Linked DNA regions of Homo sapiens. The protein of the gene in region 2 interacts with the protein of the main gene of each other region in a pairwise test. Each region holds a gene or a part of one and is shown on either strand. Other genes may lie near its edges. The genes, in order: GCH1 and CNRIP1.

Evidence for each region.
Region 1: the proteins of CNRIP1 (region 2) and GCH1 interact in a two-hybrid assay, tested with the Homo sapiens proteins (one study listed by BioGRID and IntAct).

The regions. Positions count from the first base shown.
Region 1 is NC_000014.9:54,892,572-54,896,399, forward strand, and holds part of GCH1 (GTP cyclohydrolase 1), read right to left. Parts: intron 1-3,828. UniProt on the Homo sapiens protein: Positively regulates nitric oxide synthesis in umbilical vein endothelial cells (HUVECs). May be involved in dopamine synthesis. May modify pain sensitivity and persistence.
Region 2 is NC_000002.12:68,309,798-68,313,625, forward strand, and holds part of CNRIP1 (CB1 cannabinoid receptor-interacting protein 1), read right to left. Parts: intron 1-3,828.

The DNA.
Region 1 (3,828 bases), on a different chromosome or scaffold from region 2:
CCAGCTACTCAGGAGGCTGAGGCAGGAGAATTGCTTGAACCCAGGGGACAGAGGTTGCAGTGAGCCAAGATCACACCACTTCACTCCAGCCTGGGCGGAAGAGCAAGACTCTATCTCAAAAAATAAAAATAAAAATAAAATAGATGTTTTTAATGTGGATGAACCTTGAAGACATTTTGCAAAGTAAAATAAGCCAGACATGAAGGACAAACATTGTATGTTTCCGGCCGGGTGCGGTGGCTCATGCCTGTAATCCCAGCACTCTAGGAGGTTGAGACAGGCCAATCACTTGAGGTTAGGACTTGGAGACCAACCTGGCTAACATGGTGAAACCCTGTCTCTGCTAAAAATACAAAAATTAGCCGAGCATGGTGGTGGGCACCTGTAATCCCAGCTACTCGGGAGGCCGAGGCAGGGTAATTGCTTGAACCTGGGCGGCAGAGGTTTCAGTGAGCTGAGATCATGCCACCGCACTCCAGCCTGGGTGACAGAGCAAGACTCTGCCTCCAAATAAATAAATATTTCTACTAATGGGCTCCAATAGAATAAAATTCTAGTAAATGAATGTCCTCTTGGCCTTGAGTATAACAGATTTAACTTGGTTCAGATACTCTTTGCATAACCCAACACAAATTATATCCCAATCTAATTACTATAGACTCTAGCAAATTTATAACCATGGGAAACATATTTGTTTGCATAACCTGGAACTGAGAATTGTTCACATAATCCAGGATTCATAATCTGGGATCCAATGATTAGACAGTTGCCCTCTCCTGGTGAGTTTTAACACTGCAGTCTACTCAACCAAATACTAGACTCAAATTACAGTCCTCATATAGAAATCACTGGCAAATGAGTCAGGTGGGGAATGCCCAGGCATGGAAGGGTTTCTAGAGGTGGACAAAGCAAATAGCAGAGAAAATACAAAAGCGGGGATAGGTGAGGAAGAAGGGAGAAATCATTCAAATAAATCAGTAAAATATTATTATTAAAATTAAATCACCTACCAGAGATTACAATGATTCTCTTTCTATATCATCCTCTCAGCTCCGCCACTTTCAAGATACAGTCTTGGGAAAGTTCTCTCTGTGCCCCAATTTCCTTATGTATAAAATGGGAATAATATTGCCTACCCCATCGTGCTACTGTGAGGATCAAATGAGGTAACACATGTAAAAACTCACTGTTTAGCACAAAGTAAGCCATCAGCAGTATTTGTTACTCAGAACATCAGTCGGCTTAAGCATCGCTTCACCCATTCATGCTCCCATCTCCTGGCATTGGTCAAGTTCCTATGCCAAGTGCTCTCACTGAGCTGTGTTTTTGTTTATCATCACATTTCTCAATCTCACAACACATTTCTATTTCATGTGATTCTATCTGCTAGGCTGTAAGTTCCATGAAGGCAGGAACTATACCTGGTTTTGCTCATCCTGCATTCCCAGCGTTCAGTGAAGTGCGTAGTACTTGATGATCAATGAAATTGTAGTAAAATTCCTACTAATTTTTTTAATAATAGTATTTAGTACTAATACAAGTTGAATTGTGCCATTCGCCAAAAAAGATATGTTGAAGTCCTAAACCCCAGGTATCTTTAGCATGTGACTTTATTTGGAAGTAGGGTTGTTGCAGATGTAATTAGCTAAACTAACACAGGCATACTGGAGTAAAGTGGACCCTGCCTCATATGACTGACATTCTTATAAGACAAAACAAAAACATGGACACTGACAGAGGCAGCGACTGGAGTGACGCAGCTCAAACCAAGGAACACCATCAACTGACGGCCACCACCAGAAGCTGGGAAGAGGCAAGGACAGCCTCCCCCACTACAGGTTCTGGAGTGAGTATGGTTCTGCTGACCCCTTGATTTTGGAACTTTAGTCTCTAGAACTGTGAGACTGTTTATTTCTGTCATTTAAACCACCTAGTTTGCGGTACTGTGTGATAGCAGCCCTGGGAATCTAGTACGAGTACCAACCTGAAGGCTTTGCTTGCTATAGTGAAGTTATGTATATTGATTTTTCTTCCCATGTCAGAAAAATTGTTTATAGATAATCCATTTTTAAAAGAAACTATTAGGATTGGCTTTTCTCCCCCTTTCTCAGTAACTTCTTAACTGTTTTATTCCACTTAGACATGTCCAAAATTCCAATCATATAATATGTCAAAAGTGCCTTGTTATTTTTTCTTCTTTATTCACAGTGCTCTTTCTGGCAATGAACACAACTAAGTCCTATATAAGTGTTCATTAACAAACCAAGCACAAAAATTATTAATGGATCAAAATTTGAGTGAGCTACACATCTAAAATAGTACCTTTTAATGATGAGAAGAGCATTTCTATAATATACTTTAAAACTTGGGATATAAACTCACCTTTCACCCATGATATAGGAGAGAATAGTAAATAGTTTATGTTTTTGTTCCTCTTCACATCTTAGAAGTTGTTAAAATTCTTAGTTCACCACAGCAGTCTAATTTAATAAATCCGAGAGGTTTGTGATTCAAAAAGAAAAACCTTTTGTGATTGCTACATTTCAGTATGAAGTGTCTAAGATGCATTTTTGTATAAACAAAGTATCTAATTGCCTCCCATTATCTTTAGCGAATAGACATAATCTTCCAGTGAAAATGGCTGAGGTGGGGATATGACTCACTGCCAGTGTCTGTGCTTCCTCAGCCCTCACAGGGAAGCAGTCAGCCATCTCCAATGCCATCTCCTCACGCTGGATTATATGCATGCTTCCCAAAATTTTGAACTGTTAACATGATTTATAAAAACTGTCTTGGCAGACAAGCTAAAACCTACTTTAACTGGAAATGTGACAGAGTCAAGACTCTTGCATATTCCCAAAAACTCATAAAAAACAACTGATGGAACAAGTTATACCCATTTAATCCTTGGTAGATAATGCTGTCTGAAAGGCTGTTCCCATGTATACCTGGAAGGGTCAGTTACAGGGGCATGAAGATCAAGGCCCTCAGAGAATAGCAGACTCTCCAATTTAACTAAGTGTAGGTTCTGAATAAAAGAATAGTGGAAATACAGGAAAGGTACCTTATATAGAAAGGAGAACTCACCAAGATAAAACCTTGAATATTTAAGAGAACTAGGATACAGCTAAACTGAAATGGCACAGAAATAGATCAAGACGAGCTGGTCTGAGCTGGTCCAAGGATCAGCTTGTGATGTAGATTCAAAGGACAGCCAGTTCCTGGGAGAGATGATAGCGTCTCCTCCAGCCCTCCCTCCTAGCCCATGAGCTACAGTCCAGTAGGGAATAGTACTAGGAAACCTATACAACCCTGACACCACCCTGGTCACAGATGACCACAGATGCTCCCATGGAAGGTACACACTGGAAAGTAGGGAAAAGGTGCACAAGGAGACAGTCATGGAGAGACGCTGCAACGTAGGGAAAACTGAACAAATTCCCCAGAATGCCAGGAATTTGGATCAATCCACACAAGAGGCACTGGGAGGAAAAATGGATTTTGAAGAATGTAAAATACCAACTTATTTTAAATTTTACAACACTTAAGTCAACATTACTAACCAGGAGTTAATATATAGAATACAGATATATAAAAGATATAAAGTCCTGTATCCTGTTTACAAGCACAGAAAAGTGACCTTCAGAGAAGTATGTTCTTATCCAAAAACAATATATAGTGGCCACTTGACTCATGCTCTCTAAAGAAATAAAAGGGATTGTGCAGAAGCGTTTATGGACCTAAAGATGTGGGTTCCCACTCACTCCTATCTCCCACCAGTATCCTTCCTTCTCCCTGCCATCCAGGTTGGTCCAAGACCCCACCACA
Region 2 (3,828 bases):
TATAAACTCTGCTGTAATCCCTAGCTAACTGCATATGAAGGATAGTGGGACATGGACACCCTACAGGGGCCATTGAAAAAGCAGACAAACCAGCAAAAAGTCAATCCTTGAAAGATAAAGTTGTGCTAAGATTAATAGCTTCTTTATATTTACGTATGTATGTATGTATGTATGTATGTATGCATGCATGTATTTTGAGTACATTCCCTAACCTCAGAAGTAGGTATCAGAGTAAAGAGTTTTGGATTGGCCAGGCACGGTGGCTCACTCCTGTAATCCCAGCACTTTGGGAGGCCGAGGCAGGTGGATCACTTGAGGTCAGGAGTTCGAGACCAGCGTGGCCAACATGGTGAAACCCTGTCTCTAATAAAAATACAAAAATTAGCCAGGTGTGGTGGCACGCGCCTGTAGCCCCAGCTACTCTGGCGGCTGAGGCAGGAGAATCGCTTGAACCTGGGAGGTGGAGGCTGCAGTGAGCTGAGATCGCACCACTGCATTCCAGCCTGGGCAACAAAAGTGAAACTCCATCTCAAATAAAGCAAAACAGTTTTGGATTGATAGAGCAGCTGGAGAAATAGGGGAACCTCAGGGTGGGTATATCCAAAAATCTCAGTATAAGCTCTCCAGTTCCTTGGCTGACTGCTAAGCTCCATGGGCACAAAAGGAGACCAGGCTAGAAAAGCAGCAACTGGAAGTTATAAAAACTGAGCAAAGAGATCAGCTGCTGCATACTGCTGGAAGATAGAATTTGAAGTTTGAGTACAGGAATGTTTACTGCCAGCTAGAATACAAAAAACCAGTAATACCCAGAAGAATAAAGCAGAAACTAGAGTTGGTAATAAACTATCCACAATGTTAAGTTTGTGGCCAAAAATTACGAGACATGTAATGAAACATGAAAGTGTGACCCATATTAAAAAAAAAAAAAGTCAGGCTGTAATAATTTACTCTAACTAGAGCCAGGTGTTGGATTTATTAACTACTTCAAACCAGCAATTACAAATGTGCTCAGATAAATTAAGGAAAACATGGTCTCAATTAGCCAACATAAGGAATCTTGAGAAACTGAAACTATAAAAAAGACAAATGAAAATTCTAGAGCTAAAAAATGTTATAGAATTTAGAAGATAAGCACAAGACTAGAAATAGAAGAATCAGTGAACTTAAGGATACATCAGTAGAAATGATCTAATCTGAAGATCCATTAAAAAAAGAAAGAAAATTGAACATGTCCTCAAAGACTTATGGGATAATACCAAGCTTTTCAACATATGTTTAGTTGGGGTCCTACAAAGAAAGGAGAGAATGAAGTATTAAAAAAGTATTTAACAAAACAATGGTTAATAATACTCCAATTTTGGTGAAAACATTAACCTCTAGATTCAAGAAATTCAGTGATCCCCAAGGGGGGAAAAACCAGTTAAGATGCATCATAACCAAACTACTGACAAGCAGAAAGAACTCTATGAAGGGATCATTTTACTGTATATGTATTATACTTAAGTTAAAATATTTCAAAGCAAACAAGGGAAGGGAATAAATATAGGATTAGAAAACAATGAAGTAGAAAAACAGAGTGAAGCATGTGAAAAAAAAAGCTAGGATTTTGAAAAGGCCAATAAAACTGAAATCTCTAGCTAGACTAATCAGAGGGTATAAAAATAAAAATTTTGAATAACAAGAGTGAAAGAGTAGGTCGGGCGCGGCAGCTCATACCTGTAATCTGAGCCCTTTGAGAGGACAAGGTGGGCGGATCTTGTGAGGCCAGGAGTTCGAGACCAGCCTGGCCAACATGGCAAAAGCCCATCTCTACTAAAAATACAAAAAATTAGCTGGGTATGGTGGTGCGCACCTGTAATCCCAGCTACTTGGGAGGCCGAGGCAGGAGAATTGCCTGAATCTGGGAGGCAGAAGTTTCAGTAAACCGAGATTGCACCACTGCACTCCAGCCTGAGAGACAGAGTGAGACTCCATCTCCGGGGAAAAAAAAAAAAAAAAAAAAAAAGAAAAGGATCAAAGAGTAAAAGAGTAGACATTATTAGAGATCCTAAGACACTGAAGAATGGCGGAGATTATAAACAACTTTATGGGAATAAAGTTGAAAATTTAATTGAAATAAATGACTTCTAAGATAAATTACAAAAACTCAGGAAATAAAACCTGAATAGCCCGATATCTATTAACGAAATTGAATTTGTAATAAAAAATCTTCAAATAAAGTATAATCTATGCCTTCATTGGTGAATTCTGACATTAAGAAAAATATCATTTCTATATAAACTCTTCCAGAAAATAGAAGAATGAACACTTTCCGAATCATTTTATGTAGCCAGCATTACTCTGATACCCAAAACTAGACAAAGGCATTATAAGAAAAGCAAACCATAGACAAATATCCCCCCCGGAACATAGATGTCAAAAATCCTTAACAAAATATTAATGAATCAAATCCAGTTTTACATACCGAGAATAAACCATGACCAGTGGTATTTAACCTGGGAATTCAAGGTTATTTTAACTTTGAAAAAGCAAGGTAATCTACCATAAACAGAATAAAACACCTTATGATCATTTCAAAAGATACAGAAAAACTATTTGAAAACATGTTATAATACGTTCATGATTAAAAAAACATTCAGTAAACCAGGAATAGAAGAGAACTCCTTTAACCTGATAAAAAGATTTACAATAAAGAACCTTACAGCTACTATACTTTGTATTGAAAAACAGAATGCTTTCTCTCTCAGACTGAGGGACAAGAATGTCCACTCTCACCATTTCTATTTAGCAGCATACTGCGAAGGTCCTAGCCATTGCAATTAGGCCATAAATAAAATGAATACAGATTGGAAAGAAAAGAGAAACTATTTACAGATGACATGATAGCATATTTAGAAAATCCTAGGGATCCTCCAAAAACAGCTATTAGGATTAGTGAGATTAGCTAAGTCTCAGGATTCAATATCAATATACAAAAAAAATCGATTTTATTTCCATATACCAGCAAAGATTCCATTTACATTATTCAAAAATATGAAATAATAAATTTAACAAAATATGTATAAAGTCTGTAGAGGAAATACTGTAATATATTGTGGAGAAAATTAAAGATGACCTAAGAGATATTTCATGTTCATGGTATAGAAAACTCTATATTAAGATGTCAAATATCTTTAAGTTGACCTATAGGTTTAATGGAAACTCTATATCCCAATTTTTGGAGGAATTGACAAGCTCATTCTAAAATCTATATAAAACACAAAGGACCTAGATTAAGCAAAAGAACTTAGAATAAACAAAGCTAGAAGATTTATGCTACCTGTTTTAAGGACTACAATATAGATCAAACAAGATTGTTTTGGGTCTTCTATGTCTTTGGAATTTCCAAATTAAAAAGACATACATTGAGTATGTAAAGCAACTAGAATTCTCATACACTGCTGGTGGATATACAAAATGGTACAACAGTGTGGATATTTCTTACACAGATAAACACATACTTACCATGTGATTTAGCAATTGTCCTCTTAGGTATTTACTCAAGAGAAATGAAAATATGTTCACACTGAGACTTATACTCAAATGTTCACAGCAGCTTTATTCATAATAGCAAAAGCTGAAAACAACCCAGATGTCCATTTATTGGTAAAGGGAGAAATTATGGTATATCCACACAACATAATATGCTACCCAGAAATAAAATGAACCAACTACTGATATGTGCAACATAGGTGAATCTCAACATTATACTAAGTGAAAGAAGTCAAACAGCACTGTTCCATTTACATGAAATTCTTACATAGTTAAAACTAACATATTGAGATGGCA